Linked DNA regions of Homo sapiens: region 2 is linked to region 1. Evidence: fine-mapped expression QTL. Tissue or cell type: aorta. Region 1 holds a variant in brackets; the other region holds the start of a gene. All regions are shown on one strand. Distances are from middle to middle.

The links. PIP is the estimated chance that this variant, and not a neighbour inherited with it, causes the effect.
Region 2: it holds the start of CALHM2, and the variant in region 1 is fine-mapped to the expression of CALHM2 in aorta (GTEx, PIP 0.98).

Annotation. Positions count from the first base shown.
Region 1 is chr10:103,424,155-103,432,260 of GRCh38, forward strand. PDCD11 (programmed cell death 11) reads left to right here. Exons shown (of 36, transcript NM_014976.2): 20 at 830-1,371; 21 at 3,175-3,237; 22 at 7,975-8,080. Among named protein-coding and RNA genes, the nearest start is that of CALHM2, 24 kb to the right of the region's middle. The variant C/T (reference allele first, on the strand shown) is at 4,957.
Region 2 is chr10:103,450,038-103,455,176 of GRCh38, forward strand. CALHM2 (calcium homeostasis modulator family member 2) reads right to left here and starts at 2,333. Exons shown (of 4, transcript NM_015916.5): 1 at 2,119-2,333; 2 at 1,046-1,248; 3 at 1-62. CALHM1 (calcium homeostasis modulator 1) reads right to left here. Exons shown (of 2, transcript NM_001001412.4): 2 at 3,203-5,139. It overlaps LOC124902494 (a long non-coding RNA gene), which reads left to right and starts at 2,406. Exons shown (of 2, transcript XR_007062275.1): 1 at 2,406-3,199. RefSeq lists enhancers at 1,006-1,375, 1,324-1,944, 1,945-2,566 and a silencer at 2,405-2,734.

The DNA of each region.
Region 1 (8,106 bases):
CTGTGGGCAGTTCAGACCTCCAAGCTGTGCGTCCACACCCTCGCCTGCCTTGTCTTCTGGACACTTTTGTGTGACATAAGAATGGGTTTGAGGGAAAAATTATTATTTTTCTCTGGGTGATGAATATATTTGGTTATTGTCTAAAGCACTTATTAGGCACCTAGTTGCACAGAGTATGGTGCAGTGTAGATATAATCCTTAATTTCCAGTTGCTTACAGTATTAAGAGTTTAGGACAGAGAGAGAATGGAAAGCAATACTAACCTCTCATTCAGTTTTCTAGCAGGACCCTGTACCATTTTATCACCTAAGGGAAGCTTGGGCATATAAGAGCATGAGCACAATTTGGATTTTGAGGAAAGAGAGGCTAGGTGCCTTGCACACAATAAGCTCTCAGTAATGACTCTATTCATTGCTTGGGTTGAAGAGTGATTAATTGGGGGTGGGGGAGCTGCAGGACAGATTCAGGAACCACAGTGTCTCTAAGCTGAGAGAGCTGTTAGAGGTTGCAAGGCTGTGCATCAGAATTATCTCAATAACTTGTAAAATTCAGATTTACTAGATCTAGGATAGGGTCTTGCAATTTAAATTCAAAGCAAAGCAAAAACCAAGCCAAGGTAATTCAGAGGCAGCCCCATGAGTTTAGTGTACAGGAGAGGAAAGCTAGGTCCAGGGAGTGAAGGCTAGTCTGTTCCAGCTCAGACCAGCCTTGAGTTCCCTAGCCTTGGGACCCCAGAGGGTTTCCTCAGCCACACCCTGCCCAGTGGGGCCATGAGTGAGTGACCATGCTGTGTAAGGAAAGCAGGGATGGTGGCTTTTCTCTCTTCTAGCTGAGGAAAGGCAGCGAACACCAGGCGATTGTGCAGCACTTGGAGAAGTCCTTTGCCATTGCCTCCTTGGTAGAGACGGGCCACCTGGCAGCTTTCTCCCTGACCTCTCACCTCAACGACACCTTCCGCTTTGACTCAGAGAAATTGCAGGTGGGACAGGGTGTCTCCCTAACCCTCAAGACCACAGAACCAGGAGTGACTGGCCTTCTTTTGGCTGTGGAGGGGCCGGCTGCCAAGAGGACCATGAGGCCGACCCAGAAGGACTCTGAGACAGTTGATGAGGATGAAGAAGTGGATCCAGCTCTGACTGTAGGGACCATAAAGAAGCACACCCTCTCCATCGGGGACATGGTCACAGGGACTGTCAAGTCCATTAAGCCTACCCATGTGGTTGTGACTCTGGAAGATGGCATTATTGGCTGTATCCATGCCTCCCACATTCTAGATGATGTTCCAGAGGGCACCTCTCCTACTACCAAGCTGAAGGTTGGGAAGACGGTCACTGCCCGAGTGATTGGCGGGCGAGACATGAAGACATTCAAGTATGGAGGCTCTGGGGGTGGGCTGGCTTCGAGGGAGATTGTTGTTGTTGTGGGAGGACTGGGAAAGTAGGTGGGCTCCAAAAAGTTGCATGTAAGTCAGATTCTCTTTTAGTTAACAAAAGGCATTCACCAAAGAATTATTTTGCAAGATTCTTTTTTTTTTCTTTTTTTTGAGACGGAGTCTCACTCTGTTGCCCAGGCTGAAGTGCAGTGGTGTGATCTCGCCTCACTGCAAGCTCTGCCTCCTGGGTTCACACCCTTCTCCTGCCTCAGCCTCCCAAGTAGCTGGGACTACAGGCACCCACCACCACGCCCGGCTAACTTTTTGTGTTTTTAATAGAGATGGGGTTTCACTGTGTTAGCCAGGATGGTCTCAATCTCCTGACCTTGTGATTTGCTCACCTCCACCTCCCAAAGTGCTGGGATTACAGTGCATTATTCTTTTTAAAAATATGGAATATATGGTGTGGTTGTTAAGAACATGGGTTTGGAGTCAGACCCGGGTTTGAATTCTAGATTAACTGTGACCATGTGGCAGTAGCTACTTAAGTCCAAATTTTATTTTCTTAATTTGTAACGTGAGAGTCATGGTAGCGACTACTTTGTAGGGCCATGGTGAAGACTGAAAGAGAGAACGTGTAGTCTGTTCTTTGCCTAGTGGGTTGCTGGCCTCAGTTACTGCGCTGTATACATCTGCAGTTGTCATTCTCCACCTCCCACTTTAATTATCCTCATTTACTTTAAATCTAGTGCCACATGTTACTGTAGCAGAAATTCTTGCTATAACAAGAACAGCAAAAAAAGAATTCAAAGTCTGGCCAATAATTTGCATATTAATTTCAGTAGCTAACTGTGGGGTCTTCAGTAAGTCAATTATCCTCTAAATAAAGACCTCAGTTTCCTTATTTTTAGAATGAAAGAATTGGAGTATATAGACTGTAAGGAAAATTGTTTTCAGGATCTGATATGACAATCCTAAAAGATCAGGCCAGGCACGGTGGCTCACGCCTGTAATTCCAGCACTTTTGGGAGGCTGAGGTGGGTGGATCACCTGAGATCAGGAGTTCAAGACTAGCCTGGCCAACATGGTGAAACCCCGTCTACTGAAAAAACAAAAATTAGCCGGGCACAGTGCCTGTAGTCCCAGCTACTCGGGAAGCTGAGGCAGGAGAATCACTTGAACTCAGGAGGCAGAGGTTGCAGTGAGCTGAGATTGTGCCATTGCACTCTAGCCTGGGCAAGAGAGTGAGACTCCGTTTCAAAAAAAAAAAAAAAATCAGGTGAGGCTGGGTGTAGTGGCTGAACCCTGTAATCCCAGCACTTTGGGACGATGAGGGAGGTGGAAAACCTGAGCCCAGGAGTTCAAGACCTGCCTGGGCAACATGGTGAGACCCCATCTCTACAAAAAAAAAAATAAATAAATAAAAATAAAAATTAGCTGGGCATGGTGGCATACACCTATAGTCCCAGCTACTTGGGAGGCTGAGCTGGGAGGATTGCTTGAGCCCAGGAGATTGAGGCTACAGTGAGCCATGATTGCGCCACTGCATTCCAGCTTGGGTGACAGAGTGAGACCTTGTCCCAGAAAAAAAAAAAATTCAGATGAGCCTGCTCCTTACTAATAACTGCAAAGGTTGGGAATGGAAACCTTCAGCCTGACACATCTGTCTTCAGTGGTGGTGTGACAGTGGAACAGGGTGCTTTTGTGAGCTTGGTTTGGTGGAGAGTAGGGAGAAATCCTGACCTACAGATTACTGTGTTACAGAGATGAAGAGAAATGATTCAGCTTATTTGTTTCTCCAGGTATCTCCCAATAAGTCACCCCAGATTCGTTCGAACCATCCCGGAGCTGAGTGTTCGGCCAAGGTGAGGGGGACATTAGCAGCACTGTCTTACGGAAAGAGCACTGGGCTTTGGAATTAGGAATCCCGAATTCGAATCTTGATTTTACCAGTGTTAGGATTGATTTTTGCCTTTCTCTGTCCAAGTTTTCTTGTTTCTCTAGTGGGGATATTTGGTTCTCCTAGGGCTGGAGGGATCATATGAAAATTAATGCAAAAGCTGTGTACAGGTTTTAAGTATCAATTTAAAGCCTGGTTTCAGTTCTGTTTGTCAGCATGTCACAAAAAGAAACATTTTTGCTCTCAACCCAATTTTCTATAACTCAGTAATTCCCTAAATAAGCAACATGTATCCAAGAATACCTGTTATTTCAACCTAGACGACTGTGTGGTGGGCTGGAGGCTGAATAGGAATTTCAGGTCATGGTGGGGTAGATTCTGAAGAGAAGGGTGTTCCATGAGATACTCTGTGGGGAGGAGAACGAGGAGTTCTCTAAAAGAACCCAGCCTCTCAGATTGATAGACCCTTAGTGAATGAAGCTAGGTGTGTATGACCTTAATTAAGAAAGGCTCTGTGGCTCAGTCCTGGGATCCAGCCAGGTTGTAAATCTTAATGCACCTAGAGATTTACAGAACGGTCTCCAAAGTAACTTCCAGAGCCAGGCACAGTGGCTCACGCCTGTAATCCCAGCACTTTTGGAGGCTGAGGCAGATGAATCACTTCAGGTCAGGAGTTCCAGACTAGCCTGACCAACATGGCGAAACCCCATCTCTACTAAAAATACAAAATTAGCCGGGTGTGGTGGCGGGCGCTTGTAATCCGAGCTACTTGGAAGGCTGAGGCAGGAGAATTGCTTAAATTTGGGAGACGGAGGTTGGAGTAAGTCAAAATCTCGCCATTGTGCTTCAGCCTGGGCAACAAGAGCGAAAGCCGTCTCAAAAGAAAAAAAAAAAACACAAAGTAAATATTCCTGGCACATTGAGTTTCAGATGCTAATAACACTTTTGGAACTTCAAAGTAAGCCCTAAACTAAAATTTCAGAATAATAAGATTTGGGGGATGAATTACATTCCTATTTGTTAACTGTGGTTTCTTAGTTTTGTAGATTTTGATTGTATTTATCCTCCAGTCTTTGTTGGAAAAATGAAGAAACCTCTTCATATTAATGGTTTCAGCCTGCAGTATCTTCAACTCTGACATGTGATGTCTTGTTTTAATTAAACCCTTAATTAGGGTTGAGGTTAAGTAGTTTATTCAAACTAAGGGTAGATATCTTAATTTAACAGATATATGGGGGATGAGTCAGTGAACTCTGTGGGAACACTGAGATCCTAAATGGTTTTTGATCCTAGGAGTACTGAGGAACCCCTCATTAACACTGCTGGTGTTGGAAGACTATGGTATGAGCCAGAGTGGGGGTACTTGGCTGTAGCAGAGTGGGCCATGACAGGAATTGAGTGGATTTGTTAAGGAGGTGGGAGATGTAGAGTTATAATAACAGATAGACAGATGGCCAGACACACTCCCAGACAGATGGCCAGACATCTTCCACTTCCTCCATGGACCTTTGTTGTACTGTGACTTGTTTTAATCTCAAGGCTCTTGAGAAACATAGTGATATTTCTCATGCTTATGTTTTAAAATAAATATTTTGAAGTCAGGATGAAAAACATTTAACTGACAGTTTTGACTTAACGGAGGAATTATAGCTGTATTTTTATTCCTCATTTCGTATGGGGATCT[C/T]GTTCACAAAGAGAATGCTGTCTGTTCTAGAGCTGAGTTCAGAGGTGTTGAGGGGCACTCAAGGTTAAGATTCATCTTACCTGCTTACTCCTCTGGAGGGCTGAGAGGAAAGAGACAAGGCCATTCAGGAGTCTTAAACGGTGTCTCTGGCATTCCTGTTAGCCAGTGAGTTTTCTCATAGGTCCCCATTCAGTACTGCCAACCCTTCTTTTTTGGAGGGTTGCTCTTTTTGGAGAGGAAGTTTCAAATCACTTCAGGAAAAGAACAAAGGATAACACATATCCGTTTATGTGGTGGGTTTGGTTTGGTTTGGTTTGGTTGAAATAACAGAAATTTCTTTTCTCACAATTTTGGAGGCTAGAAGTCTGAGATCAAGGTGTTGACAGGTTTTGTTTCTTCTAAGGCCTCTCTCCCTGGCTTACAGATGGCCATCTTCTCCCCATGTCTTCACATGGTCTTCCTTTTATGTGTATCTGTGTCCTCATCACAGATGAGTAATTTTTTACAGTAAAAAATTACTGTAATTTTTAAAATTACTATAACACATACATTTACCCTCAACAATTTTCAGGTATACATTACCTGAAACAACATGCATTGTTAACTAAATGCATGTTATACAGCAAATCTCTAGAAGTTTTTTGTCTTGCGTGACTGAAACTATACCTATGGAACAGCAACTCTGCTTCTCCCTCTCTTCCGCCCCGGCAACCACCATTTCCCCTTCCGTCTCAGTGAATTTGACTGTTCTAGGTACCTCACTCATATAAATGGAACACATACAGTATGCGTCCTTTTGTGACTGGCTTATTTCACTTAGTGTGATGTCTTCAAGGTTTATCCATTTTGCAGCATGTGTCAGAATGTCCTGTCTTTTCTTTTCTTTTTTCTTTTTTTAGAGACAGGGTCTTGCTCTGTCACCCAGGCTGGAGTGCAGTGGCGTGATCATGGCTGACTACAGCCTTGACGTTCTGGGCTCAAGTGATCCCCCTCCCTCAGTCCCCCGAGTAGCTGGGGCTACAGGCACGCACCAACATGCCTAGCTAATTTTTGAATTTTTTTTGTAAAGACTGGGTTTTGCCTTGTTGCCCAGGCTGGTCTCAAACTTCTGAGCTCAGGCAATCTGCCTGCCTCGGCCTCCCAAAGTGCTGAGATTATAGGCATGAGCCACTGTGTCTGGCATATCCAGTCTTTTCAAGGCTGAATAATATTCCATTATAGGTATATGCCACATTTTGTTTATCCACCCATTGGTCAACGGACATTTAGGTTGCTTGTGCCTCTTGGCTATTGTGAATAGTGCTGCATTGAACATGAGTGTGCAAATACCTCTTTGTGATCCTGATTTCAGTTCTTTTGAGTATATACCTATAAGTGGGATCACTGGATCGTATGGTAATTCTATTTTTAATATTTTGAGAAACTTCCATACTGTTTTCCATAATCGCTGTACCATTTTACATTCTCATCAACTGTGCACAAAGGTTTCTATTTCTCTACATCCTCGCCAACACTCGTTATTTTCTTTTTTTTTTTTTTTTAATAGTGGCCATCCTGCCGGGGTAAGGTGATATCTCATTGTGCCTTTAATTTGCTTTTTGTGATAATTGGTGATGTTGAGCATCTTTTCATTTGCTTCTTGGCCATTGGTATATCTTCTTTGGAGAAATGTCTACTCAAGTCCTTTTGCTCTCTTTTTTTTTTTTAAATGGAGTTTCGCTCTTATTGCCCAGGCTAGAGTGCAATGGCACAATCTCAGCTCACTGCAACCTCTACCTCCTGGGTTGAAGTGATTCTCCTGCCTCAGCCTCCCGAATAGCTGGGATTACAAGCGCCCACGACCACGCCCAGCTAATTTTTTGTATTTTTAGTAGAGACGGGGTTTCATCATGTTGGCCAGGCTGTTCTCAAACTCCTGACCTTAGGTGATCCACCCGCCTTGGCCTCCCAAAGTGCTGGGGCAATTCTTACTTTACTAGATAGGAAAGTTCCCATTTTCTACATTTGGGAGCACTTGCTATTGTATTTTACAAATTTACTAACATTACTTGTACCAGTTTGGTTCATTTGGGCTTAGAAATTATTTGAATTGGTAAGTAGGGGTGGCAGTTTTGTGATTCCTTTGAGGTGATTGTGGACTGATAACTTTCAGGCTACATCCCTTTGTGGTTTTTCTGAGAAGAAAAAAGAAAATCAAAGGCTGAGTGCCGTGGCTGACATCCATAATCTCAGCACTCTGGGAGGCCAAGGCCAGTGGATCACTTGAGGTCAGGAGTTCGAGACCAGCCTGGCCAACATGGTGAAACCTTGTCTCTACTAAAAATACAAAGAAATTAGCTGGGTGTGGTGGCGGGTGCCTGTAATCTCAGTTTTTGGGAGGCTGAGACATGAGAATCACTTGAACCTGGGGGGTGGAAGTTGCAGTGACCCGAGATTGTGCCACTGCACTCCAGCCTGGGTGACAAAGCAAGACTCTGTCTCAAAAAAAAGAAAAAAAAATTACTTGAATAAATGAATGCTCATTTTATTAAAAAAAAAAATCAAGAAAATGCTAATGGAAGGGTAGCATAGGGCAGAGAGCCCTGGATTTTGAGTCAGAAGCCCTGATTTTAACTCCTGGTTCAGTAGCATAAAATGGGCTTAATATCTCCCCTGCTGAACTCACACAGTTGTCAAATTCAGTGAGAGATAATTTTTGAATGCAGTTTTGCAAAGTAAAGCAACAGCCAAAGTATTATGAAAGAAGTAAAACAATTTTGTTTCCTGAGTTTATAAAGCCTATTGTGGGCTACCTGCTTTAAAAGCAGCTTGTTCATAAGTAGATGAATGAAACGGAAAAGATTAGCCTCGGGCCAGTATTGTGGACATTCCCCTTTGAGGAGAGAAACGGCCTTGGAGGGTGAGTATGAGTAGGGGAGTCCCGTACAGTCAATCCGTGGCCACTTGGGAGAGATGGTTTCAAACTGGAAGTCTTATCCAGAGATGGGTTTACTGTTTACATTTCCTTTCTGCAAACAGTGAGCTGGAGGATGGCCACACTGCTCTTAACACTCACTCTGTTAGCCCCATGGAGAAGATTAAACAGTACCAGGCCGGCCAGACTGTTACTTGCTTCTTAAAGAAAGTAAGTAGTTTTGCCACTCGGCAATG
Region 2 (5,139 bases), 24 kb after region 1:
GCGCTGGACGGCAGGGTGTGGTTGTGCTATTTTATCCCCAGCTGTGGTTGGCCTGGTGTTTCCTGTGGAGCAGATGACCGATAAGTGTTTCCCTCTGAAAACCAGGAGTTGAGGAAGATGCTAGTGTGGACAGGCTGGGGAGAAAGGAAGGACCATAGGGCCCCAGGGAAGTGACAGTTGCCACTGTTCACTGAGTTCCTCCAGGGTGCATGGCACCCCTCATTTCCCATCCTCACAGTCCCACGTTGAGCTGTGTGCCCGCCGTGCACTAGGGAAAGTGAAGGCTTCCTGAGGACGAGTGGCTCGCCAGGGTCACAGATGAGAGGCAGACTGAGATTCAAGCTTGGGTGACCTGCCTCAAATGCTTAGGTTCTTTTTGCCACCACGAGCTTCTCCTGGGGTAGGGCTTGGGGGTGGCCCATGGTGCTAATGCATGTGGGGTGCTGACCGGCTTTCCCTCTGGGAGTCCAGGTGGCGCATATTAGCAGAGGGGCCAGGGACTCCTTGGATCCAGGGCGTGTCCTTAGGGTCTCAGCCTTGAGGGTGTAAAAGCTAAAGTGAGTGTCCGGGTGGATAAGGGACTTGGATAGGATCCTGCCGTGTGGGCTGGGGTGGGTACAGCAAGATGCCAGAATCCCTGGAGTTCGCAAGGACATTATCTTTTTGGAGACCTCAGGGTCTGATCACACTTCATGACTGTTCTCTGGGCCTCAGATTCCTCATCAGTGAAAAGAGGATAAATCATCCTGAGCCTTGCTCTTTCCTAGGGATGTTGGAGGGAAAGAAAAGAATAAAAGATGCCTGATTGTGCTCTGCGTGAAACTCTCCATCTCTTCCACCCTGTCTTGTCTTTGGGGTGGGGACGATTCTCCTGCCTGCAAAGATCAGGGAACTGAGACCTGAAGAGGATAAAGTGCCTTGCTGAGGCCCAAGAAATACAGAGGTGCCACAGCAGGACCTCTAACCACAACCTAAGGAGACTTGGGAAGTGGATAAGGGTGATTCTGCACTAAGTGAACCCTCTTTTTTTCTGTCTCCTACTGACCTTGCCGTGTCCATCCACGGGTGTCCCGAAGAACCTCCTCTTCCGCAGCCGTGACCCCTCTCCTATCCAGCAGCCTCCCAGCAGCTCCGCTCCACCCCGCCTGCCAGCAACAGGAAGCCCTGGTGAGACCAAAGGCTCAGCGGTGCCACCAGCTCATCCGGAGATTATTCTGCCTTGGTCTGGGCTGTAGCGACGCTGGCAACCTGCCGGGAAGTGGCCATGGCCTCGGGCAACAGCGAAGTTTAGCCCAACTCCCTTCCCAGCCTCCACCCACACAAGCCTGAGAGACAGGCCAGGGTGTGGCCCCATGTCCTCCCCCTCTGGAGGGTGAAAAACAAAACTCCCCAGGCCAGAGGAAGCCAGGGAGTGGAGGGATGGGGTGAGCGCCAAACACAGACCTAGCCCTGTTCCCTTCCATGCTTCATGGAGGGATCACCCCTTCTAGATCACCCCTTCTGTCCCTGCCAAGGAAGGCTGCCAGATGGGCTCAGGCAGAGCCATGTGGCCATGCAGACTCCAAGAAAAGGAGAAGCTGGAGGAGGAGGACCAGGAGGAACAACAGGAGGAGGAGGAGGAGGAGGAGGAGGAGGAGGAGTCTGATTCTTCCCCCACTTCACAGCCTGGAGCTTCCAGCCTAACTTCCTGGGAAAGGCAGTTTGCATCACTGCTGGGGAAGAATGGGTTAAAGTCAGCCCCCTTTGCCCCATCCTTTTCCCTTCTTGGCTTCTAGGCTCCTAATTAGCTCCCTGTGGAGGCCCTGGGTTCATAAACTGGCTCAAAGTGGGGTACAAGATACCTGCACAGGGTGGGTGGTGAGCAGAGGATGGGCCAGGCCATCTTCTGAGACCACTGCCCCCAGGCCAAGGATGGGTCACATCCAGACCCCCAGTGGGACCTCCTCCAACATCAGTGACGACAGGAGACTGGCGGCTCGGGGAGGGGCAGGACTGCTCCCTGTTCAACCGGGTGGAGGGAACCTCAGCTAGGGGCCTCTCTCCCTCTGGGCAGCGTGGGACAGGCCCCACCATGCTCCGCTGACACCTGGCACACCCCAGGGAGGGCCCCTTCCTTACCTGGGGCCAGCTGTGGGCACTTGTGGCCATGGCCTCCTCGGGGCCGGACTCTCCAAGTGGCCTCCAGGAGGGCGGTGCAGGGCAGCGGCGGCCTCCGCCGTTCCCTCCCGCTTTTCTTCTGCACGGGGGCCTGGGGCTGGTGGCGGCTTCAGACTAATCTAACTCCAGAAAAGAGAGAAGAAAACAGTGGGATGGAGTCTGCGCGCCAGTGAGTGGAAAAACAGCCTCCCGGCGCCACCAGGCAGAGGAGGGCGGGCCCCGAGGGCGGCGCGAGAGGAGAGGAGCCGAGAGGAAGTTGAGATGCCTGTTCTGCAGCTGCTGCGCGTCCCACCGACCCGCTGCTCGCCGTCCCTGGGCCGTGCTGGCCCTCCGCCCTCGGCCCAGACCCGGACCGGGCCATGCTCCACACCAATGGGACCAGTCGGGAGGGCCACGTGGGGATGTGGAGGCATTGGGGAGATCTGACCCAGACCTGCCCCCCATGACAGTTTCAAGAGCACCCCACGTACTTGACCCCCGCTGGGCAGAAGCTACCAAAGGAGACCCCGCGAGGGTCAAGGGAGGGTGTCGTCAGGCCCGCGCTGAGCCCTGCAGGATGCTCAGGGCCAGGGCCCCACCCTCTACTGGCCCTTCTCCCTCAGAGTTGTCCATTGACTGGACAAACCATCCCCAATGCTGACTCTTTGACCTATAGTCAGCTAACTCCCCGGGACCTGCTTCGGATCCCTGGAGGGCTGAGGATTGAATTCAGGAGCCTAGGGATTCTCCGGGTCCTGCAGGCAGAGCTCCAACTGGTGGGTGAAAGTTACAAGGAGGCAGGTTTCTGAAGGAAGCCCTGTGTAATAATCAGAGCTGCCCAGCCTGTATCTAAAAGTGGTCAAGATGCGGGCTGAAGCGTCACGGGTCAGGAATGCTGCACAGGAGAGTCTACGGACAGGCTAGATGACCCTTAGCATGGAGGGAGAGGACCCCCGACATCTGTCAGCTCTGCAGTGCTCGTGGTTCCGTCATGGTGGAGCTGCCGAGTGACCCGCTGGCCTCCCTGAGCTGGGCTTGACCATATGTACGAAGGAAAGAAAAGGTACCAAGTTCTGCTTGTTTATTTGTTTGTTTCAGATCCCAGCATGTGCTAAACACAGTCCCAGATCCTTCCCTAAAAGTTATCTTCCTCTATCCTTACCACAATCCTGAAAATCAGGTCTTTTTTAAAAAATAATTTTTTCATTTTAAAAAAATTATAAATCTTCTCTTTATTCTTCTTCTTCTTCTTATTATTATTATTACTTTACAGAGACAGAGTCTTGCTATGTTGCCCAGGCTGGTCTCCAACTCCCAGGCTCAAGTGATCCTCCCTCCTTGGCCTCCCAAGTGCTGGGATTACAGGCATGAGCCACTCCGCCTGGCCAAGCAGGTCTTCTAATATCCATTTTATAGACAGACACACTGAGGCTTAGAGTGGCTGGGTGACTGGCCACAAGTCCTGCAGTGCTGGTATTTGAACTCAGGTGTGCCTGACCCAAAGCTTTGCTCTTCATCACATTTGTACCTCCTGATACCTCCGGGCCTTCTCTTCCCACTGGAAGTGCTGCCACCCACCAACATACACCTTGTTTTTTGCTCATCCTAATCCTCCCTGACTTCAGGGCCCATACCAACTCCTACCTCCTGGAAGAGCCCTCCCAGCCCACCTTGGCCCACAAAGATCTGAGCAACTCCTCCCAAATAATTAAGAGGAGGGAAACTGGACCCCAGAAGTGGGAATAGAGGGAAGGATGGATAAAAAAGGATGGAATCATGCCAAGATCAAAATGAATCCTTAGATGCTTGGGACTTATGTCTCAGAGCTGAGGGCGGTGCTGAGAAACCTATCTGTACCTCTGTTTCCTCCTCAACAAGATGGAAGCTCGAGTGTTTGTGTTGCTGTCTCATCCCTGCCCAGGGGAGGAGGAAGGAAGTCCTTAGGTTCAGAAATCAACAAATACATTAGCCACCCTGTGCTGGGTGCCTACTATGTGCCATGTGCTTTTACACACAGCAACCCCATGATGGCGGGCCGGGGGGGCCTCATCCTCATTGTATAGATGAAGAAACGAAGGCACAGGCAGTGATGCAGCTGGCCCAGGGACAGGGTTTGTGAGTGGTAGAGACACCATTTGACCCAGTTCTGTCTCACTCTGGAATCTGAGCTGCTTTCTCTTTACACTGCTCTCCTCCACCCTCATCCCACCTGGGCTAGAGCCTTGGAGCTCCTCTTAGCCTCTTAGAACTCCATCCCCAAGAGGTGGGGTCTTTGAGAAAAATGGAGAGACTTCAGCTTCTGTGTCTAACTTCTCAAGCCTTGGGGATGGTCTGATTTCCCCTGGAGACCTGGATGTGACGGGGGTATTAAGGTGGTTTTTCAAAGACCCCTCTACAGGAGGACTTTTGTGCTTGGTTTGTGCTAAATAAACATGCAGTCCACCTGGACAATTGTCACATGACCCCCATGGTGACCACACACTCTGACCTCTTCCATGTGAACCTAGCTTCTGACATCTTGTCTCATCGCCTGTCACCCCAGGTGTGTCACACCAGGTAGGCTGTGTGTCATGTCCTTATGGACCTGCCCCGGCACACCCAGTCTCACCTACGACACGCTTGCCCAAATCAGAGGGCTCCCACTTCATGAGACGCCTGATGATTCCCACTCCCCGAGCCCGGAGCATAAAGGAAGAGAGGTACTGAACAGCCACAGACGAGGGTGGACCCTGGGGCAGGGATGTCTGTTGAACCTGGGAGGAGACAGTGAACATCAGCCTGGGAAGGGCTGGGCAGAGGGGAGCCATTGGTCCCTGTACCTGCCATGACAGTTCCGACCCCTTTAGACTAATACTGCTCATGGGCCCACTGCCCTAGGGCCATCCAGGGCAGTGTCACACCTGAAGGCATCAGATCCCCTTCCAGCTCCAAATTTCCTGCCTCCAATGGGCAGGCGAGTGCTAGGGAGTGTGGATCTGCCTAGGGGAGTACTGCCCAGCACTG